Linked DNA regions of Homo sapiens. The protein of the gene in region 2 interacts with the protein of the main gene of each other region in a pairwise test. Each region holds a gene or a part of one and is shown on either strand. Other genes may lie near its edges. The genes, in order: CCNDBP1, THAP10, KRTAP10-9 and LZTS2.

The links.
Region 1: the proteins of THAP10 (region 2) and CCNDBP1 interact in binary tests that used the Homo sapiens proteins (3 or more experiments, as listed by UniProt).
Region 3: the proteins of THAP10 (region 2) and KRTAP10-9 interact in binary tests that used the Homo sapiens proteins (3 or more experiments, as listed by UniProt).
Region 4: the proteins of THAP10 (region 2) and LZTS2 interact in binary tests that used the Homo sapiens proteins (3 or more experiments, as listed by UniProt).

The regions. Positions count from the first base shown.
Region 1 is NC_000015.10:43,180,468-43,188,402, reverse strand, and holds the start of CCNDBP1 (cyclin-D1-binding protein 1), read right to left. Parts: upstream 3,001-7,935; 5' UTR 2,905-3,000; coding exon 2,796-2,904; intron 2,635-2,795; exon of another isoform or gene 2,584-2,634; coding exon 2,524-2,583; exon of another isoform or gene 2,516-2,523; intron 2,250-2,515; coding exon 2,170-2,249; intron 1-2,169. Other genes in the region: TMEM62 (transmembrane protein 62), read right to left, coding at 3,817-4,143, 7,104-7,222. UniProt on the Homo sapiens protein: May negatively regulate cell cycle progression. May act at least in part via inhibition of the cyclin-D1/CDK4 complex, thereby preventing phosphorylation of RB1 and blocking E2F-dependent transcription.
Region 2 is NC_000015.10:70,889,434-70,897,092, forward strand, and holds the start of THAP10 (THAP domain-containing protein 10), read right to left. Parts: upstream 3,001-7,659; 5' UTR 2,840-3,000; coding exon 2,411-2,839; intron 1-2,410. Other genes in the region: LRRC49 (leucine-rich repeat-containing protein 49), read left to right, coding at 3,462-3,509, 4,151-4,222, 6,416-6,503.
Region 3 is NC_000021.9:44,622,158-44,628,879, reverse strand, and holds KRTAP10-9 (keratin-associated protein 10-9), read right to left. Parts: upstream 1,788-6,722; 5' UTR 1,709-1,787; coding exon 830-1,708; 3' UTR 502-829; downstream 1-501. UniProt on the Homo sapiens protein: In the hair cortex, hair keratin intermediate filaments are embedded in an interfilamentous matrix, consisting of hair keratin-associated proteins (KRTAP), which are essential for the formation of a rigid and resistant hair shaft through their extensive disulfide bond cross-linking with abundant cysteine residues of hair keratins.
Region 4 is NC_000010.11:100,995,090-101,002,817, forward strand, and holds the start of LZTS2 (leucine zipper putative tumor suppressor 2), read left to right. Parts: upstream 1-4,718; 5' UTR 4,719-4,863; intron 4,864-7,407; 5' UTR 7,408-7,449; coding exon 7,450-7,728. UniProt on the Homo sapiens protein: Negative regulator of katanin-mediated microtubule severing and release from the centrosome. Required for central spindle formation and the completion of cytokinesis.

The DNA.
Region 1 (7,935 bases), about 28 Mb from region 2:
AGGGAGGGAGAGAGACAGACAGACCAACTGACAGACCATGGTTATTAAACCATTAACCAGGTCTCTCTCTTTTTTTAACAGAATCAGAATATGTAACTAAAGGTAACTAGCATGGACTCGACAATGCTCCATGTTAACTATTTTCCTTCTAGGTGGTCACTGGCTTTCTCATCTTCCTTGTCCTCAATTTTCTGTTAAATTCTAAGTCAATACTATACAAATGTGGTCCAGGTTGGAGCCAGTCTACAAACTGTTTGTGACCAGTCAGGGATGAGATAAGCAGTGACTGAGAGTGTTTAGAAACTTTTATGGCAATTTGACATTTATTCAACATCCGAGCACATAATTTTATTAAAGTATCATTCCATACAGATTGGAATTTAAAAAACAACAACAACAACAAAAAAAAACCAACAACCACCCATCTTTTAGTAGGACTAAAGTGGTGAGATCTCAAGAAGGCAATGATGATTCATGTGTATGTATGTGTGTATATACACACATATATACATATATGTATTTATTTGAATATATGTATATACTTGAATATTTGTATATATTTCAAATAAATCCAAATTCTAACTTTTCATCTATGAGTGAAACTACTGTCCTGAGCATGTATAGAAAATCAGTTCTATGCTGCCTCCTTGTGGTATCTTACTTGCAGTGAGTTTTAGCAGCAAGTCCTAAGTGCATTTGAAAGAAAGGGGTTAGCAGATAAGAAAAATAAGGTAATATTAACTACTCTTTTTGAAATAAGTATTTTCCATGAATCTTTTGAAGTGCTCTCATACAATTCATCTCTTGTTTCCTCATCACAAATCTCAAAGGTAGGCCAGGCACGGTGGCTCACACCTGTAATCCCAACACTGTGGGAGGCCAAGGCAGGCGGATCACTTGAGGTCAGGAGTTCGAGACTAGCCTGCCCAACATGGTGAAACCCCGTCTCAACTAAAAATACAAAAATTAGCCAGGCGTGGTGACAGGTGCCTGTAATCCCAGCTACTCGAGAGGCTGAGGCAGGAGAACTGCTTGAACCCGGTAGGCAGAGGATGCAGTGAGCCCAGACTGTGCCACTGCACTCCAGCCTGAGTGACAGAGAGAGACTCTGTCTCAAAAAAAAAAAAAAAATCTCAAAGGTATGTAGGAGGAGAGAGTTTATCACTGTAGGTACATGCAGCAGAAGATATTTATATCCTTTCCAAACACCTATATATGTAGACTGAAAAATTAAAACAATTGACTATGAAAATCAAATAAGGCAATGAATATGCCATTTTAAAAGAATCTTACTCCTATATTAAGCATACACAACTCTAGAAAAACTGAGCATAGAGCATACGTGGTCATAGCCAACATGTTTACTTTCATTAGTTTTATAATAAAGGAATATTTAAAATGCATAAATCTTTGTTCTAGCAATTCTACTTCCGGGAATTTTTTCTACCAATATACACACATACACAGAATTAGGTAATTCATCACGACACTGTTTGCAGTAATTCTAAGTTGGAAGGTCCAGAACAGTGTTTATGTATCATTTGTGTAAAAAGAAGCTGACACATACAGATAAATGTATATGAATGTATATATGCACAGAATATACGTGGAATAATGCAAAAGGAACTGGGGGAGACAAAAATGAGAAAGTGGGTGGAAAGGTAAACTTAACACACTTTGATATCTGTTGAATTTTGTACTATCTACATATGTTACTGATTAAATATAAAAAATAATATAAAAAGGGTATTATGCAGTATAACAGAATAGGTAGCTTAGACATCAGATAGACCTTGATTTAAATTCTAGCCCCCCTGCTTTTTTTTAAATCTTAAGCTGAGCTTCTGAGCCTCCTTGCTCATCTGTCAGATGGCCATCAAGTATGTGAAAACACCCAGCAAATAAAAAGTGCTTAAAAAATTATCAGAAGGGAAACAACCAGGATAAACTTCAGACTGAACCAATATTTATAAGACCTGCCTACTCCGCGCCAGGAACTGCACTTGGCAATTCGGTCTTCACAACAATCCTGTGAAGTAAAAACGGTAACCTCACTGGACAGATGAAGAAAAGAAATCTCCTGGCGTGCGTGCAAAAGGTGGAAAGAAAATTAGAGGATTCCTAAGGTGTAACTCGGCAGCCCAAGGATTCCACGAAAGTGAAGCCCACCTGTGGAGACGGCAGTGGAAGCTGAGAGAAGACTATGGTCAGAGTCGTGGCTTCCCTTGACACAGTCACAGCTGCCTCATCTGGGGGGTGGCCGAAGAGGAGGCAGGTGCCAATACGTTAGTGCTGCACGGACTTGGAAGACTTCCCTTACCGACCGAGACTTCTCAAAAACACTTCCCGAATGTCGAGGTTAGAATTCTATTTCACCCTCTCAGGTGCTGAGGTGGGTAAGGTACCTCACAGAAAGGATGCAGCGGGGGAGAGCAGTCCCCTCCGTGGGGGACAGCGGGAGGAAAAGGGGTCGGGACGCTGGAGGAACTGAGGCAAGGGGAGCCCGGAAGGAGGCGCACTCACTGAGTCTTCTCCAGAACATCTCTCGATTAAACTCCTCGGTGGTCTCCTGGGCTTCGCCGACTTGTGGGTGTGGCGTGTGGGGGCCGAACGGTGGCGAATGGAAAAGCTGAGGTAAGCGGAGCCACCTCCCTCGCCCAAGCCCGGCTCCCCGCCGCCGCCCCAGCCCGCCCTCTCCGCGACCCCGAGCCCGGCCTCTCCCCGACCCCGAGCCCGGCCTCTCCCCGACCCCGAGCCCGCCCCTGCCGTCGCCCGTTCTAACTCCGTCAGCTCACCCCGCACTCGAGGCAGGAGCAACCGCAGCTCCTCCGCCAAGTGCCGGAGCTGCTCCAAAGGCGAAGCCAGGGTGGGGACTGCGGCTGCAGGTGCAGTTGCGCTCGCCATCTCAGTCGCTTGCCGAAGGCCGCAAACACAGGCCTCCGCTGCCACTGCCGGAGCCGCACTGCGACAGCCGCTCCACTTCCGGGCCACAGCGTCAAGGGCTCGTTTCCGTCAACAAGCCGTCCAGCCCCGTCCCAGAGGCCCTGCCCTGCCTCCTCCCGCCACGAGGCCCGGCCCCGCCCGAGGTCCAGCACCACCCATCCCGTTATCAGAGACCAGGCCTGGCCCCGCCTCCTCCCGCCCCGCCCTGTCCCCTGAGGTACAGCACCAACCATCCCACTCTCAGAGGCCAGGACAGGCCACGCCTTCTCTTGCCCCTTAGGCCAGGCTACACAAGCAAGCCTCAGGCTCACCGTCTTTCTTATTCATCATTCATTCATTTATTTGATTAGTTGAAAACACTTCCGACTAAGGAAGCAGAGAGCCCACAATCCTGTGGGAAAACAGGCCTGGGAACTAATATCTCAGGGGTAGTGAGGGTCGGGCCCAGATCCTCAAAGGTTCCCTGCCCCTGAAATTGCACCTTTGACAGCTGCTGAATTCCAAGCACAGCGGTAAGTGCTTTACATGGGGTAACCCTAAAAAACACACTGGGCCTCAGACACTCCCGTACACACACCCAACCTCTACCCTGTGGATGTCCTAGATAAGGGTTTTCTCTTCACAAAGGTAAATCAACTCTTTGCCTCCTTAGGGAGGGAAGGAATAAAGGCATTATTTTTGAGACTTTTCTGCAGTCCATTCTGCAGGTATCAGTAGTGGGTAATCCCTCCAACGTCCAGGACTCCAAACGAGCAGCTGCTCCCTAAAGCTCACCCACCAATCCTGGCCCTCCACCTGCTACTGGGGTAGAGGCCTGGGCTACAGACACAGAGGCTGGGCTTCTGCCCAGCTGCCAGTGGTGAGACATGGCCTTCAGGAGCTCAGGTGGCTTTTTAACTGCACCATGAAGATTCCAAACTTGGTGGAGTTCAGTGTCCACACATAACGAATGAGAACAGGTGTCAGCAGTGTCAACCAGGTCCGCAAAGGGGAGAATAAAAAAGCTAGGGTGCCGTATGTTGCATAAAGAAAGTAGCAGGAATAAACCTGCCAGATGTACAGCAGTAGCATAAGTAGGTGAACAGGCATAATTTTCAAGTATTTTCTTTGATGGAGATGAGACCTGAAGTTGTGACCAAAGCACCGCTGCAGCAAGCTCCAACACATGTAAGCCATCAAGGGGATGTTAAAAAACGCCAGCTGGAAAAGAACAGAACCATAGCTTACTCCCAAGTCCTTGGAAGAGTTTGGTCTTAATAATGCATTATTAGTGGATCCTAAGACTATGCTGCTATCTGTCTTGGCGTTAGCTAATTTACTTCAAGCACAGTTGCTTATAACACAACAGCTGACTTGTGGCTAGTTGTGTATTTGCCCATGTCCTTTTATTCATCTTAGAGGCAGGTATCATTTAATTTATGCTGAAGTCCCAACTTGTAGTACAGTATCATATACACAGTTAATACCCAATGGTGTTAAGCTGGAATTGAACTGAGTAAATGTATACACACACATACAACAACCCCTCTTTTTTGGTGGAGTGAGGGGAGGACTTGGCTATCAGTATTTTTTTTCTTACCTCCATTTTTGTTTGAGGTAGCATGATAAGTACTGGAATATAAATTAGAGTATCTAAATTATAATCCAAGTTGAGCTGCTGTATGATTCATTCATTTAACAAATATTTATTGAGCACCCATTATGTAGCAGGCATGAGCTAGGCTCCAAGTTGGGGACACAATGGCAAACAAGTTAGAAAAGGTCCGTCATAGAGCTTACATTCTAACAGGGAGAAGACAGACAAAAAAAAAAACCAAAAAATATAATTACAGATCGTGATTAGTTCAATGAAGGAAAGAACTGGGTCATGAGAAGGTAACTGGGAGAAAGGCTCTCAGAGGCCAGAAGGACAAGAATGAATCAGCGGAGGGAAGTGCATTCTAGGCAGAAGGAACAAATGAAAAGCCCAGAGGTGGGAGAGGTCTTGGCCTCTTTAAGGAAGTGCATGCAGAGCATGAGCCAGGTGGAAATTGGGGCAGTCGGCAGGACCCAGATCACTGCTCTGCTTCAAAGCATTTCAAGCTGAAAAGTAAGTGAGCTGATTGTAAAGTTTTTAAAAGAGCACACTGGATGCTCTGTATTAAGCTGAGAGTAAGGAGGCAAGAATATCAGGGAGAAGACCCAGGCAAGAAATAATTACAACTTAGATTAGGAAAACAGAAATGGAGAGAAGTGGATGGATTCAAGATATGCATTGGAAGCAGATCAAATAAGGTAGAGCTTGCTGGTGAAATAGATACAGGGTATGAAGGAAAGGGAATAATTGAGGATACATCTTGGAGAAATCAGGTGAATGGTGGAGTCATTTATTAAAACTGGAAAAACAGAGAGGAACAGGTTTGGGGTGGAAATAATGTTCCTATCAGAGAGACATCACATGAAGTTGAGATGCCTGTTAGACATCTGTGGCCATTGGATATAGAGGCACTTGAAGTGCAGAGAAGAGGTCTAGATCAGAGATATAGATTTGGGATTCATGGGTCTGGATGATACATAAAATCCATTATTAGTGTACTATTTATTAGAATATGAATGTAAACATTTACAAAGGAAAAAACCCTGCCTTTTGGTAAGGCTCAGGATTCATTTGGTATGAGAGAGCTCCTTAGAGACAGCCTCCATCAACATAATAGAAAACTGCAATGAGGCTGGGTGCAGTGGCTCACGCCTGTAATCCCAGCACTTTGGGAGGCCGAGACGGGCGGATCACCTGAGGTCAGGAGTTCGAGACCATCCTGGCCAACACAGTGAAACCCTGTCTCTACTAAAAATACAAAAATTAGCCGGGCATGGTGGCAGGCACCTGTAACCCCAGCTACATGGGAGGCTGAGGCAGGAGAATCACTTGAATTAGGGAGGCAGAGGTTGCAGTGAGCCGAGACGATGCCATTGCACTCCAGCCTGGACGACAAGATCGAGACTCCATCTCAAAAAAAAAAAAAAAAAGAAAAGAAAAGAAAAGAAAACTGAAATGAACCCAGGACCTACTCATGTATATAATGCTGCTATGCAGAGAATATTCTGGACTTGGGTCAGTGTTTGCTAGGCAGAAGTCTTTCCTACTTGGCTGTCTCTAATCCTGTTGGATCATGTTCTACTGCCCTGTTAGAAGGCCATGAACTTATTTTGAATGTTTTTGGATCTCTTCCAAAACTTCAAATTTTGGTCCACTAACTCCATTAGGTGAGTAAAATAAAGAAACTGTTAGATAAATACTTTTCAAATCTGTTTATGTAGTTTTTCTATGGATCAAGGTTCTTTGTGTGTTTATTTTAAAGGAATCAAATGTAAACCTAATACATCAGTTTGTTTCCTAAACAAGTACATTGCTAGGAAAGCCCAGGTCTGGTTTTTGAATAATGCAGTTTCCACTGAATAACTGACCCATTTTTTTAATGTGTCTATTTTTTAGTTTCCTCCCTCTAAAATATTTTCCTTCTTCATCATCATAATCAGTTTTGGTTTACTCAGAAATCTAAAACTTTTTCTACCATAATCCCTTGTTTCATTTTTTTGTCAATGAAAAAGCACAGTGAAACAAAAACAACAAAAACTTCTTTCACCTCTTATAAACACTTCATGACAAAAATGTATTTTAGGCTAGGCATGGTGGCTCACGCCTATAATCCTAGCACTTTCGGAGGCCAAGGCAGGTGAATCATCTGAGGTCAGGAGTTCGAGACCAGCCTGGCCAACATGGTGAAACCCTGTCTCTACTAAAAGTGCAAAAATTAGCCAGGCATGGTGGCACATGCCTGTAATCCCAGCTACCCAGGAGGCTGAGGCAGGAAAATCGCTGGAACCCAAGAGGTGGAGGCTGCAGTGAGCCAAGATTGCACCACTGTGCTTCAGCCTGGGCGACAGCAGAACACTGTCTTGGGGAAAAAAAAATGTATTTTAGATGTTTACATGAGAGTGGTGGAAGGAGTTTAGGAAGCACTTTAAAAGCAAATGAAGCTTTTATTAAAGACTGCCCTGCAAGTAAAGTAGGAAAGATGATCTATGGTACTTAATTCTGGATTTTGGATTTAATTCATAACTGTTATGCAATTAGTCTGACAAGTCCAAGATGTTCTTAAATTGCTTTTCTGACTTCTTACCTGGAGAATTCCAATTATAAATGTTATGCTGCCTTGTAGGAAATGTCCATTAACAAATATCCCAAAGGAAAAGCAGCAACCAAATTTGCCATCAATGATTTCACCAAAAAACCATGGACCTAAAAGAGGCAATGGACAAAAAAGGAGGAGATTAAATAACTATAATTCTGATTACATATATCATGAGATACATTTATAGGAATAAAGCAGAGATATGAGACTAGCCATCTATAAGCATTTTATTTCATAGCCTTCCCTCTTTGCTAGTCTCTGTGTTGTACTTGATATCCTTGCTAACCAACTATTTTTTGGATTGTGAAATTGTCTTAGTAGACACTATACCTAGAACAGATATGTGTCTTATAGATTCTAGAAACAAAAAAAGCACACTCACATTTTTGAAAATTCCATTGCAATAATAACCTCAATATAATGCATTAACATTTCCTTTAAGATGTAAAGAGGTATTCCACAGAAGTTAAATTTCCAGATGATTGAGATTTACTCCTTAAAGCAAAAAAACTTCAACTACTTTTTGAAAGAAATCTTTCTAAGATGCACTCGTTAATATAATGAATGTATTTTAACCTCTTCTTGAAGGCCCACAGTCATTACTTTGTATATCAACTACATAATCACGGTTACCATGTAGAAAGTTTAACTTGCTTCAGTTTTCTCATCTGGAATGCCATGCTGACTTTTCTATCCTCCCTATTATTATTTACTGCCCCATTCTCAGTGTGTGAGTTTCTAGGTATTATTATTATTATTATTGTCATTTTGTCTTGTAAGTGTGCTGGTCTCCATAAGAGTGTCAAGTTGTTTGTCAAGA
Region 2 (7,659 bases):
TCCTGGGGTGCTAGCAATGTTCTGTTTCTTTGACTTGGGTTGTGGTTACACATGTTCAGTTTATGATAATTTAATGACTTGTCCACTTAAGATTTGTTCACTTTTCTGTGTATTTGCTATAGTTCAAGTCAACAATTTAAAAAATTCAGTTGGGTTTTTTAAAAAAGAATGCAAAATTAACAGTTAAGGGAAAACAATAAATAAGCCCCTTTCTTTCCTTGGAAGTGGTGTCTTATCTTTTTGGAAGCCCCCTAAAGATATGTAACACTCATATTTATATTGATCCATATATAGCACCAAGCACCCAGAACAGTGTCTACAATAGCTCTTCAATAAATGTTGCAGAATCACTGGAAATCTGATTTTTAGACAGTTAGTCCTGGGATTGGGAAGAAAAACATTGGGTGGGGGAAGAAGTCAGATAGACAAGCCAATTTTTTAGCGATGTGGTTAGGGTTCTTTATCCAGACCAGGCTAAACATTTATTGCTATCAACTCAAAATCTTTTTAACCTTATATACTTTTAAAGTGACTATTTTAGAACTCACAGTTTTCTAGTAATTCAGCAAGTATATTAATGTACTATGGATTGTTATAAATGTTGGCTGGTTATACTTACTAAATGGAAAACAGATTTATTATGTATGCTGGATCTGTTTCCCAACGGTTAGTTTTTATGGGTTATAAAGACTTTGGTTGTTTGACTAGCTTGGCTTTTCTTCTCCCAATTTTTGATTAGGTTGTGTAATTATGAAGAAGAAAAATGGTGTAGGGGGATGTGTGTGGCACATGTTTAGTATTTATCTCTCTTGCTACACACATATATATGTATGTGGATGTATATGTTTGGGCAAAGTTTGTATAGGTGGTGATGGTGGACAGATGGTTCAAGGAAAGGACAGCTATCTTGACAGGTATACAGCTTGGTGAGGAGGGAAACTGGCAGATAATTGAAAATTCAATTATAATGCAAAAATTTGTTCTTATAGTCATGTAATCATTCCATAAATATTTATTGAATTACTTAAATTTGTAAAATATTGTTTTAGGCACTGCAATACAATGGCAAAGAAATCAGACATGATCCTAGCTCTCATGGAGCTTACATTCTAATATGAGAAACAAATATTAAGCAAACTACACAATTATTTCATGGCAATTATGGTAAGTGCTACTGAAGTATCTGTGCTATTGAATCACATGGAGTACACGAAGAATGAGAGTACATAACTAAGGGATCAAGGGGAAAGATGTTTAGCTGATTTTTAAGGGAAAAAGACTTAATTGGCAATGATGGGAGTGGGAGGGGCATAGTTCCAGGATATTATAATACATGCAACAACTGAGCAAAGTCTTGTTGGTAGGAAGTAATATAGTATAGTATGTCCAAGAACTGAAAGGTCAGCATGATGGTACACAGTGAGCAACAGGGACAGTGGCCTTGGTTAGGGCTAGTGTGGTATGCAGGGGGAAAAAACATGCAGGGCCATGTAAATTGGGTTAATAATTTTGCTCTTTATCTTAATAATTGCAAGATGCCATTAAAGGGTCTTAAATACCCACCCCAATGTAGGAAGCAGGTTAGTACTGCAGAAAGAGTGTTGGTCTGGCAACCGGACCTAAGTAAGGATTACAGACCCCTGAGGAAATTACTAACCTCTTGCTATAATTTAATCTGTGTAATGGTGGCAAGGCTGAAGTTTATCACAAGGAAGGCTGGAAAGTTTTCTTTAAAATGGTACGTGGGGAAGAAGGTAGTAGTAACCAGATGCAAAATGAGTGCAAACAATGTTTAGAAGGAACAGAAAAGTAGGCAGAAGAGAGCAAGATGGGGAAAGTCAGCTCACTAGGGATACTGAACTTAAAGGCAGCTGGAGCTAGTTATCAGTCATAAAGGAAGCTTGGGGTGGGAAGGGATTTATTAGCAAGCTCCATCATCTTCATCTGTAGCTCCACATCTCCTTCGCCCCATCATTTGTGACACAAATAAGGGACTTTCCTCAAGCTTATGTAATGTTATGCAACACAGTTTCAAGCACTCCAATCCTGGAGATTTGCTCAAATTAAACCCTTTCTATTTAAAAACTCTGGAGCAGCGAGTGAAAGCAACTCACTACTCTGCAGGACAAGACTCTGTGTGTGTGTGTGTGTGTGTGTGTGTGTGTGTGTGTGTGTGTGTGTGTGTGAGTTTTGGGGGAGGAGCAGTTAGAAGGAATTAACTGGGTCACTTAATTCCAAAGTGTTAATGATAAGTGGGACCTTGGAGATCACCTCTAAAGCACACCCCTAACTTTGCAGATTAGAAAACAGGAACTTTCGAGATGAGGTGCCTTTCCCAAGGTGACACTAAGTGGAGGAGCCCAGCCAGAGTCCAGGGGTCCTTACACAACCTTCGGTGGTCTCTCTTTACCTGTGAAGCTGCAGCCTGCTTCCCAGCTCGGGGGCGTGTACAGGAGACTGGACCTGGGGCAGCCTCAGAATGCCTGGCTGCCTGGAGCTCTCCTCGCGTGTCCAGGCGGCCTGCTTGGTCTCCCTCCTCTCCCCTCTTAGGTGCCGGGGCGGGCACCCGGTGCAGGGTGGGCACGGCGCCTGCCACCAGCCTCAGGCGCTGGGAGAAGCGCAGGTTCTTCTGGATAACCGAAGAGACGTCAAAACAGGCTGGGGCAAAGTGGTCAGAGCAGATGACCGAGCGGTCATTGCCTCCGTACCAGTCGGCGCGGCAACCCCGCACGAAGCGGTCCCAGAGCAGCCGCACGGCCCGGTCCTTGGGAAAGCGGAACAGCGACTTCCCAGACTTGGTGGTGTTGCCGCAGTGGGCGGCCACACAACGGGCCGGCATGGCGGCCGTCTTCGGTGCGCGGGAGCCGGGTTCCCTGGACCTTCGCCCTTGGGCACGCTCCTCGCAGCGGCCTCGGCGAGGCAAGTCCTCCCCTCCTCACCTGTCCACTCCGGGTCGGGATTGTTTCCTTCCCTACCTCTGGTCACCGGAAGTGGCGATCTGGGGCCCCCAATGGGAGGGCTCTTTGATATCTTCCTCCTCCTCCTCCCTGCGCTGCTCCCCAGGAGCCAGTGGACACAAGCAGAGGGATACAAATTTCGCGCGGGCAGCGCTGAGGTGGGCCGTAAAGAGGAACGGACCGGAAGTGGTGGTGGTTATAGCAACCAGTGTGGCCAGCCTCTTCCCCAGCTTATCCTCCTCCCAATACTCCCGCTCTGTTTTTATGAGGCTGGGAAAATAGAACGAGGAAGTGGTGACGCACTGGGCTCTCACGAATACAACTAGAAGCTGCAACGACTGTGTGGCTCTATCGATTCGGGAGAGGTCCAGACCGGAAATGGTCGTTTCCATGGTAACCCTGAGCAGGTTGCCTGGGAGATGACCTCTTTCGGGTCTCTTTGAATCTCCGCTGTAGCGTCACCTGGAAGGCAGATCTAACAGAGAACCTGGACTGTCTCCTATCATGATTCCCGGGAAATATCGCTCTGTTTCTGGCCGGGCTGCGAACAACGTAAGTTGGGCCTTCTACTTTCTCTTTCTTCCCACTGGTACTCTTTCTGACTGGCGTCTTTGTCCTAGGAGATGGGCTGTATTATTAGGACCGGCACCGCTGGGTCTACTCAAGCTATTGTCTGACCAGGGTTTGAGGTTCGTGGGCTGGACCAAGGCACAATTTAATATTGTATGATGGGTACTCAAAGTCTTGTCCAGGATCTGGGCTCCCCAGAAGGTGGAGCTGGTCTGCTGTGAAAGGCTTGGGTTTATTTAAATTCCTTTGGCCAGTCAATTCCTTTTTCTTTTCTTTTCCTTTTAACTGTGAAGAGAATTTATCATTAGGGACTCCCACCTCCTTCACCTGTCTCATTGAGATGTTTATTTAGACCTGAATGGCAAATGTCGAAAGCCTGAGGTACTAACTAGAGGGTTAAATTGCTGCCGACATTTTGGAAAATAAATCAGTGAAACCTTTTAATTCTTAGATGTGATTTTATTGTTTTCAGCAAATCCTCAGAACAAGATCATTTACCAGAAACAGAAATAGAGCATTGTGTTCTATTTTTTTGTTGTATTTCTGTTTGTACCTTTTTTTTTTTTGGAAATATGTGTTTGTGTATTAAGAGCAAATTTTATGGTTTAATTTTTACATTTCAGGTGAACTGCGGGCTTCATCTGGTTATTCAAACATCATCGCTTCCTGAAAAAAACAAAGTAAGATTTAAGAAGGTTGGCATTTAAATTGAAGATTGTTTTAAATTCTACACAAATAGCAGCATGACTTAAAGTGTAGATAGATTCTAAACTGAAAAATTTAAGTAGATTTGCTTTGATTTCCAGTTTAAAGCTAGTTCTTACTTTCTGCCTACATAAAGCTAAAATAGCCCTCTTTAAAAAACTTAATGTGATTTTATTGATTACAAAAGGGTAAGGGTTTTTTTGTTTTTTTTTTTTGACATTTACACTTTTTTTTTTCTTGAGACAGGGTCTAGCTGTATCACCCAGGCTGGGGCGCTGGGGTGCAGTGGCACAATTTTGGCTCACTGCAACCTCTGCCTCCCAGGCTCAAGCGATCCTCCCACCTCAGCCTCCTGAATAGCTGGGACCACAGGTGCATGCCACCACGCCCGGCTAATATTTTTGTATTTTTTGTAGAGACAGGTTTCACCATGTTGCCCAGGCTGTTCTCGAGCTCCTGAGCTGAAGCAATCCGCTTGCTTTGGCCTCCCAAAGTGCTGGGATTACAGGCAACAGCCACCGCACCCAGTGATATTTACACATTTCTGAAATCAGGAGCCTTCTTAAAATTGATGGCATGTCATAGTTTAATTGGGGAGGTTTTTTTTCTTTCTTAATAGAGGGTAAAATAATGGTATGTCTTACTACTAATGACACCTTAGATAAAATGGTAATTGGGAGGGCATATCCACACATCCCATTTAAAATCAGGGAAGAAAAAAATAGGTTAGCAGTGGACACATGTTAGACTTAACGTTATTTAGAAGTTACGATATGAATATGAGATTTTTTTCCCCAAGATTATTTCCCCATAATGTCTCTAGCATTTCTAGAATTTCTGGCTTTTGATTTAATTTTTGAGATTTTGAGATAAACATGTTTTTCTTTCCTTTCTGTCTCACCTCAGCATTTATACTTACCTACTTTCTACACACTATGTCTCAAGACACAACATGATTTTTCCTCCTTTGACCAAGTTGGAAACCTCTAACCATCACAATTCAGGTGTGTCCTAAAAAGTTATTAAATAGGCGTCACTGGAAGAACTCTAAAGTGAAGGGCAGAGTTCACACATAACAGCATGAAGAAGGGTAAGAAAAGGCATGAGGAAGGTAAATGGAAGGACATCGTTAGTCAAGGAGGCAGCTGTTGATTACATTATATATGAATATGAAAATGGTAAACACTCAGAAAATAGACAATTTGATCATCTCAAATAAACAGCAGTTAGATTAATTGAAAATATTATTTATTATAATTGAGCATAATGGATTCTCTCCAGAGCTTTCCTAATTGATTTCTCTGGACAAATCCTTTTCCACCATTATAATGTTTCTAGAGCTGTGTGCCTCATCTAAATATTTTTTCCAAACCATTCACTTTCTCTTGTGTGGACATCTATTCTGAGAAAATACCTTTAGGTCATATAATTCCTAAGGATATAATGCAAATGCCAACATAATGTTTATAGTATGGATACATTAGAAGTATCTTAATTAATTCAAGATACATATTTGGGGTTTTTTGTGGCTAATCATAAGAAGTTGTTCTGGTTTTGTTTTTCTCAGTCCTCCCACCAGATAATTATTTTAGATCAGTTTTAGATCAAGTGAAAACCTTTCTTAGAAGGCTTAAATATACAATTTTATTATATTATAATAGGACATTTAAAAGGATTATAATGATCAAAACAGTGATTTTTTCAACAGCATTTTATTTATATTGTGTGTTTTTTTTTGAAGCAAATGATTCTTTTAATCATTGTATTTGTGGTGAGAGCGTGGAGGGATTGGAAGTGTCTCAGCTTGGAATATCTTGTATCTGACCTCATAAAATTGATCCTGATTTTGTGGGTGGTAAAATACAATGATAGAGGTGCAGCCATCACCTCTATCTAGTTCCAGAATTTTTTCATCATTCCAAATGGAATCCCTGTACCCATTAAGCAGTTACTTCCCATTCCCTGCTTCCCTTAAATGCCTGGAAGCCACAAATATGCTTTCCATCTCTATGGATTTGCCAATGTGGTATTTTGTGTCAGTTTTCTTTCACTTGGCATGATGTTTTCAAGGTTCATCCACATTGTACCATGTGTATCAGTTATTATATGTTTTTTTAATTTATCTTCACTGCTTGGTGTTAAATTTGTCTCCAAATATTTTTTTCTTTAATAATGTTTTTCAGGTTGAATTCAAGCTAAATAAAGACACATCGTCATTCCCCGGTAGACTTTTACAACATGACCTTGAAAGAAACTACTCAAGTAGGCAAGGTATTGTCAGTGAATAGAGATCAGATGTGGTTCATCATCTTTGAATAATATTAAGTGTTTAATAATGTTGAATTACTAGATCCAAATAAACTTGAATTTAAAATGAAATTGTTCATTGGGACCAAATTGGTTTGGTATTTTTTTAAATCATTGGTTATATATATGTAGCATAGTAGATTATTTCCAATACAGAAAAAAGCTGTTATTATTTTACTTTGAGGGTGGGCTATACACTAGAGAATGGAAAAAGAATGTTTCAAATACTGTATTAGAACAGTATTTGGAAGTCGCTAATTAGAGTAAGAGTATGGGAACACAAATATTAAGGAAATCAGGAAAGAATGTAAAGTCAGGAGTAGAGAAGAAACAATCTTTCCCTGTTACTGTCACATATAATTATAGATTTTATATTAAAGGCTTTAAACTCTAGTGTCTATCACTTGGGATCTTGGGATCTTGTTAAAAATGCACATTCTTAGTGCTCCCCCTCCATCTTCCCCATTCTGATTTTGTAGGTCTTGAGCGGGATTTGGAAATGTGCATTTTAATAATGTCACAGGTGATTCTGAGGTATATGGTTTGTGGGTCATCCTTTGACAAATACTGCCTCACATGATCTGGTTATATTTCTGAAATATATTTTTCAAATCAAGGAAAACGTTCCTTCACATTTGAATCTTGGTTTGTTGCTGACAGCCATTAGCTTTCTGTAATGTGCTCATGTTAAACACTTCTGAATCCACATATACAAAACTGCCTCTACCTCTTAGGAGTTTATATGAGAGGGCTGATCAGTATAGGCCTTTCTAGGTTGTTCATGTTATTACTGTGGGAACATATGGCAATTTAAAATATTGGTTAATTTTCTCTCTCTTTTTATTTCTGGACCTACTTCTTGGACCCATCTAATCTGACATATCTTTTCTCTTTCCTACATTCTACACTCTTGTCTTGGCCAATTGCTGGACATGACGTCAGCCTAACTGCAGTTCCACAGTGTGGAAAACATCTGTCTTTGCCTTATTTGATTCAGTTCAATACTTATTTATAAAGCAAGTATTGTGTGCCGATCACTGTTTTAGGTACAGAATTATAGATGTGAAGCCTCAACTAGGGTTTTTATGCTTGCATTGTCAATTTCCTTGACATTTTTGGT
Region 3 (6,722 bases), on a different chromosome or scaffold from region 2:
GCGGCAAGCCCAGGGCTGGAGCAGGGGCCATCCCTGAGCGTCTGTGAGTGTCCACAGGAGGCCAGGATGGCCAAGCTCTCTCCGAGTGGAACTCCTGAGTGCTGGGACAGCTGGAGCCCAAGTCTCCACACCCACCCCCCACCGCCCGTCTCCCACCTCCCAGCACAGCTGGGGCCTGCCACCCCCCGGGACAGCCCCAACCCTTGCCATGGGAAGGAGCTGCTTCTACCCACAGTGAGTGGGGCATTAGCCTGAGTCACGTGGTGTCTGTGGGACTCAGCCAGTGAACAAGGCTTTTGGGCCCCACAGGACCTGGGAGGGGAGCCGGACAGCAGAACGTGCCACGAGGTGGACAGGAGCTTCCAGGTGTCACACAAGAGCCCCCCGAGGCCCCCCAGCTGGGGAAGTAAAGAGATCCACGGGGCCCAGCCCCCCAGAGCCAGGCCAGGCCCCACTCTGCCCCCTCCCGCCCTGGGTGCGGAGAGTCAGCACGGAGTCAGCTGGGGCCGCAGACGCTTTATTGGTGCTCAGGGGCAGAGGGTGACGCTGCTGGGGGTGAGACCCGGGTCAGGAGGGCCCGTCCCCAACCAGCGACCAGCGGAGGGTTGTGGTCTGCAGCCAGGAAGCACCGTGAGGAGAAGCCAGGGCTCGCCTGCCCGGGGGGGAGGTCAGGGAGGAGCCAGTGAGCATCTGAGACCCCGGGGCTGGGCGGCTGTGGCTGGGGCTGCTCCTTCTGTGTTGAGCTGTGCTGAGGCTGGGTGGGCTGGGAGGTCCAAGGACTGGCAGGGAGGTGGGGCCTGAGCCCGGCTGGCCCTGGGGGACATGACCGTCAGCAGCTGGACTTCTGGCCTGAGGAGAAGCTGTAGCAGGCCGGGCGGGAGCACACAGGGCGGCAGAGAAGGGACACACAGGAGGCCTGGCGGCAATAGCTGGGCTGGCGGGAGGAGGTGGGGGCACAGCAGGAGGAGACGGGCACGCAGCAGGCGGGCCTGCACACAGGGCGGCAGAGGAGGGACACAGAGGAGGAGGGTCTGCAGCAGGAGGTGGTGCAGCAAGCCGGCTGGCAGCCAGACTGCTGGCAGCACAAAGAGGAAGCCCCAGAGCAGACAGGCACACAGCAGATGGGTTTGCAGCAGACAGGCTTACAGCAGACAGGCACACAGTAGGACTGCTGGCAGGGGGAGGAAGTGCAGCAAGCTGGCTGGCAGCTAGACTGTTGGCAGCATGAATAGGAATCCTCAGAGCAGGTGGGCGCACAGCACACAGGTTTGCAGCAGACGGGCACACAGCAGGCCGGCTGGCAGGAGGAAGAGGCACAGCAAGCTGGCTGGTAGCTAGACTGTTGGCAGCACGAAGAAGCCCCACAGCAGACGGGCACGCAGCACACAGGCTTGCAGCAGACGGGCACGCAGCAGGCCTGCTGGCAGGGGGAGGAGGTGCAGTAAGCCGGCTGGCAGCTAGACTGCTGGCAGCACGAGGGCGTGCAGGAGCTGGTGCAGCCTGATTGGCAGGGGCTGGGCTCACAGGTCACCTGGCAGCAGGGGCTGGATACACGGCTCACTGGGGTGCAGACCAGGGTCAGGCAGGGGGCCGGGGCGCAGCAGCTGGTGGCGCAGCAGGGGGGCTCACAGCAGCTCTCTGGGCAGTCGTCCACCTGCCAGGAGTCGGAGTAAGCGCTGGAGCGGATGGACATGGTGGACGCGGCCATGCTGGGGTGGGGAGGAGGTGAGCTGGGGGAGGTGTAAGTGAGTGTGTGAGTGTGTCAGTGAGTGAGTTTGTGAGTGTGTGAGGTTCTTGGGGCTCTCAGGCTTTTATACCCCTCCTGGCCTTGTTGTTCCAGGGCCCACAGCTTCCCCTTCCTTGTTGCTGAGAGGCGGCGTCTGCCATGATTAGGGATGTTTGTTTGCTGGTGACATTGCCCAGCTCACAAATCTCCTGTCACACCTGGGCTATAGTCTGTTGCATGTGGAACCTCAGGGGCAGGAGTTGGGGTGGGCCTGATCCCAGCTGGGTTCTGGAGGCAAGGACGGCTGTGGGCGTCTGGTGGGTGGGATGTGGGTGGGATGTGCCTGGGGCCATCTTTGGTTGCTGGGGCATCGTCCAGCCACTGGCCCCAGCAGCCTCAGGACACGGGCTTCCTCTGCAGGAAGCCGGCCCTTAGGAATTATTTCCTGTGGTGCAAACTCCTCCTCTAGTATGGTCCTTCCCCTGCTGTAGGACACAGGACTCGCCAATTTCTAATCCCCATGGCCTCTGTGCCTCCTGCCCTCTGTTCATTGCCCACCCTGTCCTTTGCTTGGGAGGCAGCAGGACTCTGTTCCAGGGCAGGGATCGTGGGCTCAGCCCACTCCTTGCTGAGGCACAATGGCAGCATCGTGGGCTGTGGTTTCGGGTTCTGAACCCGTGAAGTAGCTGTGCTAGGCAGCAGGCAGCCGCCAGCCCTCGCCACTGCTGGAGCCATCTCCTCCGTGTGCCCTGCACTGCAAGCATCTTTTTCTCACCAGCCCTGCCCACAGGCCCCATCACACACCCCCAGGTCAGCCACAGGCAACTCTCACGGCTGCATGATCTTTGATGATGAATTGTTATCACCACAGGGCATGATGAAGTCCCGAGCTTCTTGCCTTATAAAATGGCCCTGATCACTTTCCAGGAACATTGCTACCCAGCAGCTAATTATAATATTGATTGTGATTTCACATTTTTATTTAAAAATTCAAGTACACATACGCATATTTCATTATAAAGTAAGACGTATTACACGATGTTGAGTAGAACGTCTTTGTTGCTGTGAATCTGGCAAAGCTGGAAACGGCCTCTCATTCTAAAAATAATGCTAACATTCTGGGTCAGACCTGTCCCCACAGGGTTTCTAAAATAAGACAGAAGTTGACCAGCTATGGCCAGCTGCCACACCCCACCAGTGCTGCCCAGGTTGTAAGAAGGAGGCTGTGGAGGCAGGGGTGGCCCTTCAGTCTTACGCAAAGTGTGGTGTCCCAGGGAGAGAGTCCTCCAGCTACTGTCCCTGGGGGTGTCTCTAAAGTGGGTCCTCACTGAAGAGGCAGAAGCAGCTGGTAGAAGCACAGGATCACTGGAGCAGCCGGAGAGAAGGTGCAGCAGTGGCCAGTGAGCCCCACAGTGGTGGCCCTGCACATTCCTTCCCCCGTCCCCATCACTGAAGAAATTAGAGCCCAAAACAGGGAGAAGGGGAGCAAGGAAAGAGAGGCCATGCCGCTCCCCGCGGCCTTCCCCGAGGTCCACTCAGACTTGCATGTGGGAACGCTGGGGATAGGACTGGGTTTCAGACAGGATAGAAAAGTTTTGAACTGGTCCATTTTGGGCTATGGATTTGGTTCTGCTCTTTCAGGCCATAGCTTTATGATACGCTTCAATCATAGATAATTCAAGTCCCATTATCAATATTTCTTTTTGTAAAAAAAAATTTTTTTTGTAGAGACCAGAGTCTTGCTATGTTGCCCAGCTGGTCTTGAACTCCTGGGCTCAAGTGATCCTCCTGCCTTGGCCTCCCAAATTGCTGGGACTACAGGCGTAAGCCACCGTGCGTGGCCCATCATCAGTATTTCTGTGCCAAGTCTCCTAACTTTTCATGCTCATTTTCTTTGCTGTGCTCAGCTCCCATTCTTCAAAGGTAAGCTTCATGTGGGCAGGAAGTGTGGTTGTCTTGTTCACCACTCAGTCTCTGAGGGCCTAAAATAATGCCTGGAATAGGGAAGATCCTTCATAAAAATGGGCTGAAATAATAAATGTTTTTGGAGAAATTATCGAAGAGTAATTTTGACCTCTGAAAACGATTCCATTATGCTACCTTTTTCTTATGCTGTATAAAACTCTCTGTCAAGTTCTGCTTTTGTGTGTGGGGAATTGGCTGACATCAGACTGGCCATCTAGCTGAGAAAAGTTAGGAAACCTGGTTTAACAAACAAAATCTCTATTTGAGGGCACCAGGAGTCACCAAGACAGCTGAGACTTGAGTGAGTGAATCCCTATTAGAGGGAAAGTGCACAGAAGTGAGTCTAATATTTCTTCTGGATTTTCTTATTGAGGCATTTACTGATTCACAGACTACAGCCATGAGGCTGAGGCTGAGCACAGCTTTTAGTAGTCTCATACAATTGGAAGACAAAAACATAGAGTTCAGGACCTGACAAGGAGGAGGGATTCTGGTAAAACAACAACAACAACAGACTGTCAGTTGGAAACAGTGAATATAAGTGAAGGATTACGCCCTAGGATGAAGGAAAAAACGGAAAGAAGAATGAAGCCCACCTTTAAATCAGCTCGTATTGAACTCATATGATCTGCCTGTAGCCTAAGTGCCTCCCAGAAACAAAAGTGATCTCTTCTGGAGACAGCAGCATCAACAGAGGCTCAAATCATCTTGGAAATTTTCATGAAGTCCTGGATTCAGTCAAAAATTACTAGGGCTACTAGAAGACAAACCAACTGACCAAAGGACCAAGAGGAAAAAGCAAACAAGAGAAACAGATACACAGGACCTTTAGATATTAGAATTGTCAAACTGGAATTTAAAATAATGCTGATTAGCTTGCTCAAAAAACCAGAGGACAAATGGAGAATTTCAGTGTCAAACTAGATTTATGAAATGGAATCAAACAGAAATTCTGGAAATGAACATAATAGCTGAAATTAAGAACTAAGTAGATTAGCTAGACAACATATTAGACAAAACCAAAGAGAAGATTAGTGAAGAAAGGGAGATGAGGAAATTCAGCCCTGAGTACAGAGATGGGAAAGAAAAGAGGGAAATGAAGAAAGTGGAGTAGTAAGCATGCCCTTATGTTGTAAATAATTATGAATATAAATGGTTGAAATCATAGGAGGAGATGAGTAAAATAAGGGTAGTAAAATATTTGAAGGTTTAATAGACAAGAAGTTTAAAGTGATGAAAAACATTAACCCATAGATGCAAAAAGCATTTAAGAATGTTTAGCAAGGTGAATACAAAGGAAACCATGCCTGTGCATATTGGGGCTGAAATCCAAAGACAGAGAAAAATTTAAAAACAGCCAAGGGAAAAAAAAAGAAATATTACCTTTAAAGAAGCAACAATAGCATTTACAGATGACTTCTCAGTAGAAATGATGGCAGCCAGAGGATGATGGAATGATATATTTACTGTCTGAAAGAAAAGAAGCACCAAGCTAGAATTCTACACCTGGGAAGAAGATCCTCAAAAATGAGGACAGGAAAATGATGTTCTCTGGATGCTGAGAGGTTGTGTCACCAGTAGGATCTGCACTACAGAAAATAAAAAGATAATTAGGCAGAATGAAAATGATCACAGATGGAAGCAAGAAGTCGAAAAGGAAATGAAGTGTAACAAAAGGAGGACAACATGGGGAAATCTAAATGAATATTTACTGTATAAGATGTCTTAGAAGTTGTAAAATATTTATAGAAATGAAATACATGGCAAGAAGATCACAAAATTCAGGAGGGGGCTACATGAAGTTAAAGCAGTCTTAGTACACTATACTATCTGGGAAATAATATAAGATCTAATTTACATTAGACTTTAAAAAGTCATAGATTCATGTTGTAATCTCCACTAGAGTAATGAAAGAATATACAACTCAGGAGGAAGTAGATGAGTGTAGTGGGTTGAATCTTGCCTCCCCAAAAGTCATATCCACCCAGAACCTCACTGTGTTAAGCTGGTCTCGCATTGCTATAAAGAAATATTTGAGACTGGGTAATTTATAAGACGAAAGTTTAGTTGGCTCATGGTTCTGCAGGTTGTACAGGAAACATGGCGCTGGCATCTGCTCAGCTTCTGGGGAGGCCTCAGGGGGCTTTGCTCATGGTGGAAGGTGAAGGGGGAGTGGGCATGTCACATGGCAAAAGAGTAGCAAGAGAAAGAGAGTGGGGGATGGGAGGTGCTACACGCTTAACCAGATCTTGCCAGAACTCCCTCACTATCACAAGGACAGCACTACTAAGTCATGAGAGATCCGCTCCCATGAGTCAAATAGCTCCCCCAAGGCCCCACCTCCAACAGTGGAGATCACATTTCAACATGAGATTTGGCAGGGCCATACAACCAAACCATGTCACTCACAATGTGACCTTACATAGAAATAGGGTCTTTGTAGATGAAATTAGTTAAAATGAGGTCATACCGGGTTATAGTGAACCTTAAATCCAATGACTAATGTCTTTATCAGAGAAAGGAGAAGGAAGTTCAAACACACACACAAAGGGAAGACGGCGTATGACAGCCAAGGCAAAGATTGTCATGAGGCAGCTATAAGCCAAGGGACGCCAAGGTTTGCTGGGAGCACCAGAAACTAGAAGCAGCAAGGACAGAGTCTCCCTTGGAGCTAAGAGAAAGCATGGCCCTGTGGATATCTTCATTTCAGGTGCCTGGCCCTAAGAACTGCGAGATAATAAATTTCCACTCTTATAAGTCACTTTTTTGGTGACATTTGATGTGGCAGCCCAAGGAACTAATACAGTGAGGGGAAGATGGGGGCATAAAAAATCTCAAAACACTAGATCCAAAAGCAGTAAAGCAAGGAGATAAAAGGGAGTAGATTCCTTGCGTAAGCAAAAACCAAAATGAGATGGGAGGTTTAAGCTCAAACGTATCAGCAAAGCCCCACATTCTTGCCAGTCCTGCACAGCAGATGTGTTGTTACTTTAGTCAACACAGCTATACAGAGAGAGTCCTTTGGGGTTTA
Region 4 (7,728 bases), on a different chromosome or scaffold from region 2:
AATATGTTCTGAGGGGGCTGGGGAGAATCCTTTTGTAAGGGTTGGGGGAAGGTTTCCTGCTCCGTTTGGAAGCAGGGCTGCCTTGTCAGGCTCTTCCTTTCAACCTATGAAGGGGCTTCTGGGGCCGATGGAGGGGTCTGTGGTCTCTGGAGTGTGAGAACTCTGGTCACAAATGTCTCCTGAAACATCCGGAGCAAGGCTGCTGGAAAGCTGCTCTCTGTGAGGAAGAACCTGGGGGGGTGGGGAGAGCTCCTCCAGGGCCTCCCTTCTTGGGGGTCTCTCCCAGACTGGCTGGAGCCAGGCCTCCCTAATCCCGCAGTAATCATTCCCAGCCGTTGGCTGGTCTAGGCCTCATCCAGAGTCTGTAACGCTGAACGGCAGCCATGCCTTCCAGAGGCACAATACCATATCAGTCATACCTGTAAGGATGTGGGTTCCACATTCCTGTCTCCCTAGAATGCCTGGTGGGTTCTCAGGAGATCTTTTAGGGGTTTCCAGTAGGGGACCTTTGTGAGGTCTCTGTGAACTGGGGATAGAGGGATAGATACAGACTTGGCTGTTTGTCTTGCCCCACCCTTCTAGCAGACACCCCCACACAGCACAAACCAGAATGATGAGGGGGAGGGGAAGCTAATACTCCCCCCAGCCCTACCCGCTGCACAAACACGTTCTATTCCATACCTGCCTTAAATACCCCATATCATGATTCCACCCAGTCTGTTCAGATCCCTGGATTCTAGAAAGCAGTGGGGGGTCCCTAGGGCCTGTGCGGATTCCCTGGGATAGGACTGGTCTGTCTACACCCAACTGGATGTTAAGAATCTCCCTGACTCACAGGTTCGGTGGATTGGGAGGAAAAAAAAAAAATTTCCCTGAGATCTCAGGAAAGGCCTGGCTAAGCCAGGTCCAGTTGGATCTACAGCCTTGTCCTCTAATTGATAATGTATGTCACACTTGGCCATGAGGGGACAGCTTTGGTCCTCTGGCAGCTTCCTCTCTGCTGTGGATGGGTTTAAGAAGAAACAACTCGGCCGGGTGCGGTGGCTTACGCCTGTAATCCCAGCACTTTTGGAGGCCGAGGCGGGTGGATCACGAGGTCAGGAGTTTGAGACCAGCCTGGCCAATATGGTGAAACCCCGTCTCTACTAAAAATACAAAAATTAGCCGGGCGTGGTGGTGCGCGCCTCTAGTCCCAGCTGCTCTGGAGGCTGAGGCAGGAGAATCGCTTGAACCTGGGAAGCGGAAGTTGCAATGAGCCAAGATCGTGCCGCTGCATTCTGGGCGACAGAGCGAGACTCCGTCTCAAAAAACAACTCACCGAGGTCTCCTGTAGCCCATATGGGCCAGATACCTGTAGACCTTCCTACATGCTGCCTTGAGTGCCATGGTGGGAGGGAGCCCTTGGGGCCTCCCTGCAATACAGGCCAACTTCCTGTTTGTGCCTGTGGGTGGGACTTTATGAGTCTTCGAGAAGCCCAGCCATGCCCCGTGGGGGTCAGAACCCGCAGGCCTGCTCACCTGGGCAGATACCTACTCTAGGGAGGGGGCTGTGCTGGTTCTGCCTGGGCAGCCCCACGCTGAGGTGTGTGCGTGGTAGGGGTAGGTGGGAGCTGCTCTGGTGAAACTTGAGCCTTCTTTGTCTGCTTCCCAGGGGTTGTCCCTGTATTTGGGGATTGGGCCAAGAGTGGACCGGGTTGGGCTCCCATCGGAGCAGGGAGGGTGGCAGAGTCAAGCTCTTAGTTTAAGCTTAGTTTAAGGCAGCCAGGTAGCCGAATTCTCGGTCACGTGATGCTCGCCCCCTTCCCCAGGTCAAAAACCAAATCCAGTAAGCTGTGAAGTCAGAGGCCAGAGGGGCAGCCTCGGCCACCGTCGAGTCACTCTTAGGCTGGGCACTGGGTCGGCTGCTGGTGGAGTGCGGGGCAGACCACTCCCCTCCCTGGGTGGGGGGCGCGGCCTGAGCCGCCCCGCCCCGCCCCGCTCCACCAGGTCGGGCCAGGCGGGCGCCGGGAGCTGGGAGCCGGGAGCCCAGAGTTCGGAACCTAGAGTTCGGAGCCGGCTAGGGAGCCGGCGTTGTCGCGGCGAGGAGGTGGGCGCGCTGGAGCAGGAGCGGGGCCGGAACTGGAGCCGAGGCGCAGGTGGCGCTGGGTGAGTGGTGGGGCGGCGGAGGTGCAGGAACTCCCGCCTCCCGCTCATCCCCGCTCCTGAACGAACTTTCCGCTTCTAGGGAAGCTAGGGGTTGGGGTGAGGAGGGGGGTCCGCACTTGGTGGGGTCCCCGCGAAGAGTCCGAACAGGGAAGTGACACGAAAACGCACGCCGACGGGCCCCACACACGCGTGCACAGACCCACGCCCGCACTTGGGACACGCGAACACACATGCACTCGGAAAGGACGCGCCCAGTTGGCCACCCTTGCACTCCCAGGGACAGCGCCAGCCGGCCCGCGCGGACCCACAGCGGGCAGGGCACTCTGCGGTCGCGTATTGGGTGCGGGAAAGGGGCAGCCCTGTGACTACCGACGGGGGCGGGCCGGGTGGGACGCACCCGGAGGTTCCTGCTTCCTGGCCTCCCGCAGGTGAAGACCAAGACGTAAACAGACGCCGAGCACGTGACAGCTCCGCAGACCAGTGGCCTGTGCCCCCAACCCAACCACGGGGCGGAAATCCACCCTAGTCCGGGGCGCGTTTGCTTGGTCCCAGGCCGGACGGCGTTCCATTCTCCGCCTGGAGCGGGGATAAGCCCTCTCCCGGGAACCGGAGCACAGCGCCCCCTGGAGCCGGGGCGGAGCAGGAGGGCCCGGCTGCTGGGCAGGGCTGGGGTTAACTCGGGCTCCTGGACGTCCTTCTCCCCAGCACATTCTTGGTGTCTGCATCCCTGAAGGTTTCGGAGACAGGCCCTTGATGGCAGTGGACAGCTGCCCCCGCCTGTTACCGCCAGCCCAGAGAGCAGCTGCCTGAGCGCCTGCGGGTCCCCTTCCTACCCTCACCTCCACTCCTTGCGGGAGTCGGAGTCTCCTCCCCCCAGAAAATGCATGAGTGTAAACGCTCCCTCAATACCAGAGTGGGCCTGCCCCCCTAGAAAAAGGAGGACGAGCCCCTCCCCCCAGGGAATGAGGGAGTGGGCAGTAGCCCGATGCCTCCTCCTCGCCCCACCCCCTACCCCTACACACACGCTGAGCCCAGCTGCCGCCTGAGCTGGGCAGGCTGCCAGAAAGAGGAGGAGGCTCTCGGTGCCCCAGGAGGCAGGGATCAGGGCAAGGCCAGAGGAGGGGGCTCTGCTGGGGAGAGGGGCTCAGTCTGTTCTTGTGAGGCTGAGGGTCTGGGGTGAGTCAGGGTGGCTGGGCTGTGTTTCCCTTTCCAGGGAAAAAGAAAGAAAAACAACCCTGTCCATGGAGCTAAAAATAGAGCTGAGAGCCGGCCAGGGCTGTGGCCTGGAAGGGGGGGATGCTCCTTCCTGGGGCCCGGGCGAGCTCCGGCAGGCCTTGGCCCTGCGGGGGAGGGGGTGGTTAGGGGAGAAAGGCTGCCTTTGCCCAGGGATGCAGGCATCAGCTGACCTGACCGGGTCACCGAGACCCCTAGGGGAAAGGCTGTGCGGTAGAATATTTGTGAAGCACGGCGTGTAAGAAGTTGTCTGTGTGAGTGACTGTGAATAGAGGCTGTCAATGCGTGAAAGATGGTTAGGAGACTAAGTGCACTTGAGACTGTGACTGGGTGCGAAGGACTGCGGATTGTTGTGGAAGCCTGTGCCCAACAGGCCTGTGACACCGTGTCTGTGTGTGAGGTGGACTGGAAGATTATGGAAAGAAGGAACGCGGACCCACGTGACGGCTGAGACTGCGGCTGCATGTGGGAAAGGTCTTGTGGGTGTTAGGGAGACTGTATTGTGTGCGAGAAGGTGAGACTACTTGACCCTGAGGAAGTGGAATATTGTCTGCCGTGAGGCTGGTGTAGGTTTGGGCTGTAGGCTTGCACCGGTTCGCCCCAGTGATTGTTGGGGAGCCAGGGGCCGCTCCTCTCCGATAAATGACCTCTCTCTTAGCAAGTGATCCCGAGGGGAGGCTGGGGAGCACGCGGTCGCGCCAGAGGCCGGCCTGGGTTCGCGGGGAAAAGGGCACCGTGCCGGGGAGTGGGGCAGGGCCCGCGTGTTGGGGGCGGCTGGGTGTGTTCTCCGAGCCGGCCGCCAGGTGGCGTCGCCTCCGCGAAGCCCAGGTTGCCGCCTCCAACCCGCCGTGGGGCAGGCGCGGATCGAGCCTCGGCCTCCTACTCGGGCTAGGGCGCGGGGTCCCGGCACCGGAGAGTGGGGGACGGCCGGCCATCGGCCTCTCGCTTGGGACTCTGAGGCTGAGAGCGTGTCAGGGAAGCTTCGCCTGGAGAAGCGGAGGGGGAGGGGCGGCCGCCGCCGCGCCGTGGCCCTTTGTGCTGGAACAATGACCAGCTGCCGCTGGCCCCGGGGCCCCGGCTGGGGTTGAGGGTGACCACCGCCGCCGCCGCGTCGAGCCGAACCGAGCCCCCAGACACGCAGTCACAGGGCGTCGGAGGGAGGGCTCCCGACTGCCGCCGAGCAGCCCCTACGTGCGCCCCGGCGGATTCGCGTGACGCGGGTGCTTGCGCGTGTCCGCGCCCCGGGGCGGAGACGCCCCTCGGACCCTCCCCTGCGCGGTGCCGCCCACTCGCACCGGGCGGGGGCTGGCCAGGGCCGGGGGCGCCGCGGAGGCGGAGGCGGGGCTGGGCCGGGCAGCTCCGAGTGGCGGCGCGCGGGCCAGGGCCGGGGCCGGGGCCGGGGCCGGAGCCGGAGCCGGGGCCGGGCGGCGCGCCTGTGGAGCGCTGGGGGCGGCCTGGGGCTGAGCATGGAGCAGCGCGGCGGAGGTGAGGGGGGCCGGGTCTGGGAGGCGGCCTGGGGAGCCCCCAACTTATGCGCGGTGGAATCCAGCCGGGGGGACGGCGTTCCCCAGTCGCCCCCACTTTCTGGAAGGGGGGCTGGACTCTGGAGAATGGGTCAGGGGCTCCTGGCTTCCCGCCGCAGAATGGGAACTCGTGATCGCAGACTTGACCCCGCTTGACTGGTCCTTGGAGTTTGGGTGGGAGGGAGACTTTCCCCAACTCTTCAGATCCGTCTCCGGCCCTGAACCAGCTCCAGCCCTCTGCTCTCCTCAGCCCACTAAAAGGGGGGTGCTCCTGGGCCAGAGTGATTGCTCAGGGAGTGCTGGGGAGAATGAGGGGTTCCCATCTCCCACAGCCACAAACGCATTTCTCAAAATGGAGCCTCCACTTGCCCCTCCTTCTCTTTCGGGCTCCAAGAGCGGGAGCCGGCCTGGCTGGGCCTGGCTTTCCAGACTCCTGGCTCTGGCTCCCTGGATGTGTGGCTCTCAGGGCCCGGCTCTGTGGCACTTTGGACTTATGGGCCCTCGGCTCCGTGGGGTTGGGGGGCCCTGGCTCACTGGGTCCCGCTGGCTGTCCCCTTGTCGGCCTGACCCTCGGGCCTCTCCGAGTCTTTGTCTCTTTTGGGTCCCTGTCTTTCTCTGAGCCTGTCTCCTTCCTTCAATTTTCACTTTCTCCGTGCTCGCTGAAGTGGGGAAATGCAACAGAGGTGCCAGCCCCCTTGGCCCCCTAAGAAGTCCCTTCCCCACTGTTCACTCCACACCCTGGAGTGGGCCCAGAGAGGGGAGGGGAGGGGGTTCTCTATCTGCTCTGCTGGGGGCTGGGGTGTGTGGGGTGGTCTGAGCCCCAGCCCTACAGAGGGGCCTGTGGTCACTCCCTGCTCCTGGCCTACCCCTCCCCCAGCTCCCCGCAGCTCCTGCCCCAGCGTGGACACCTCTTCCTGGTTCGCAGTGTCTTTTGACTTGGGTGGGAAGGAGGGCGGTGGATTTAATGGAGGGCATGCGAGAAAGAAGGGGAACAGATCAGGCAAAGGAGTTAGATAATGTCCCACCTCTCCCCACACGCCGAAGAGAGAAGGAAACAGGCTCCCCCCACCAATGGGCCCTCAAGCCACCCAGGCTCCCACCACTCTCATACCTGCGTGCCCACGTTCACAGGCTCCACTGCACCACTCACCTTCCTAGTCACACACAAACACAGGAGCTCACACATAAACTCATGAACTTACTGACAAGTCTGTCCAGGCACCGTCTCTCCCACACACCACAAATTCACTTGTTAGATCCACATTTATAACTTTCACAGGCTTTCTAATGACCCCTGATCCACATACTCTTCTAAGATATACACATGTGAATTCACACATGAACTCATATGTATGTGAATGAACTGATATATCAAACATGCATAGACTCACATGATGTTTTCACACACATTTTCATACACACGTGTTCATTTTCATGCTCCTGTGCATGTAGTCACACAACAAATAACTAAATGCACACACTCCTACTCCCAGTGCAATTCTCTGTCCACTTCTTGGCCCCGCTCTGCATGATGACTTCAGCAGATGCCTAAGTCCTGGTCATCAGCGGCCTCGGGACTGGGACTAGGGAGGGGGTTCCGGGTGGAGGCTTGCAGCTGCTTCCAGGAAGGAGCAGAGCCTGGGGAGGTGGAGCCCTCTTGCCTGGGCTCTGTGGAAGTGAGGTTTTGGAGCAGCCTCCAGAGGTGAAGGCAGGGCATCTACCTTCCTCCCCTCAGGGTTAGTTTGGGGACCTTCTGAAGCTGTAGGGTTTCAGAGAGGTTGGCAGTGGGGCAGAGCCTGTGGAGGCTCCTTCAGGCCTTCAGGCCTCACCGATTGGGTGTGCAGAGGCTAGGAGTTGTCATGGAAACTGGTATGAGCCTGCATCCACCTCTGGGAGGCAGGAGACCCCAAAGGACACCTGTGGACTCCCTAAGAGCCGCGGGTTTCTTATTTAGCCAGATCGACAGAGAGGCAGTTTAGCCGCCTTTCTGTCTGAGAGAAACTGAGGCCCAGCAGAGGGAGGCAGGGCACTGCCTGGCCTTGGCTCTTTGTTCCCTAATTACCATCTGAGGTGCTGATTGCACCCCTGAGGTACCTCTGCCCAAACTGCCCTGTAATGAGGCCACCTGGCTGAGAGGACCAGGGACCTGTGCTTCAAGCTGGTAGAGAAGGCCCCTCCCTCACCTGAGTCCTGGCCTCTGTGGAGGATGCAGGATTGGGCTTGGGCCTGGGTCTTTGCTGCCAGGTGGCCCTGCGGTAATCATCCAGGCCTCCCATGCCTCTCAGCATCTCTGCTGAGTGAATTCACTCCTCAGCCCTGTTCAGACCAGCATTGGGCAGTGTGGTTTGGGGCCCAGGGGGAATTGAGATTCATTCCAGCACTTGAAGGGGGAGTCTTGGTGGGGATCAGGGCTTGTTACTGATGTCAAGGAGGTGTTTGGTCAGGATCAGTGGGTCAGGAGGGGTCTCAAGGTGGAGGGACTCTGACACCACTGCCCTGCTTACAGGTCGCCTGCGAGGCCGCTGGCCAGGCCTGAGCCTCTGCCACCATGGCCATTGTGCAGACTCTGCCAGTGCCACTGGAGCCTGCTCCTGAAGCTGCCACTGCCCCACAAGCTCCAGTCATGGGTAGTGTGAGCAGCCTTATCTCAGGCCGGCCCTGTCCCGGGGGGCCAGCTCCTCCCCGCCACCACGGCCCTCCTGGGCCCACCTTCTTCCGCCAGCAGGATGGCCTGCTACGGGGTGGCTATGAGGCACAGGAGCCGCTGTGCCCAGCTGTGCCCCCTAGGAAGGCTGTCCCTGTCACCAGCTTCACCTACATCAATGAG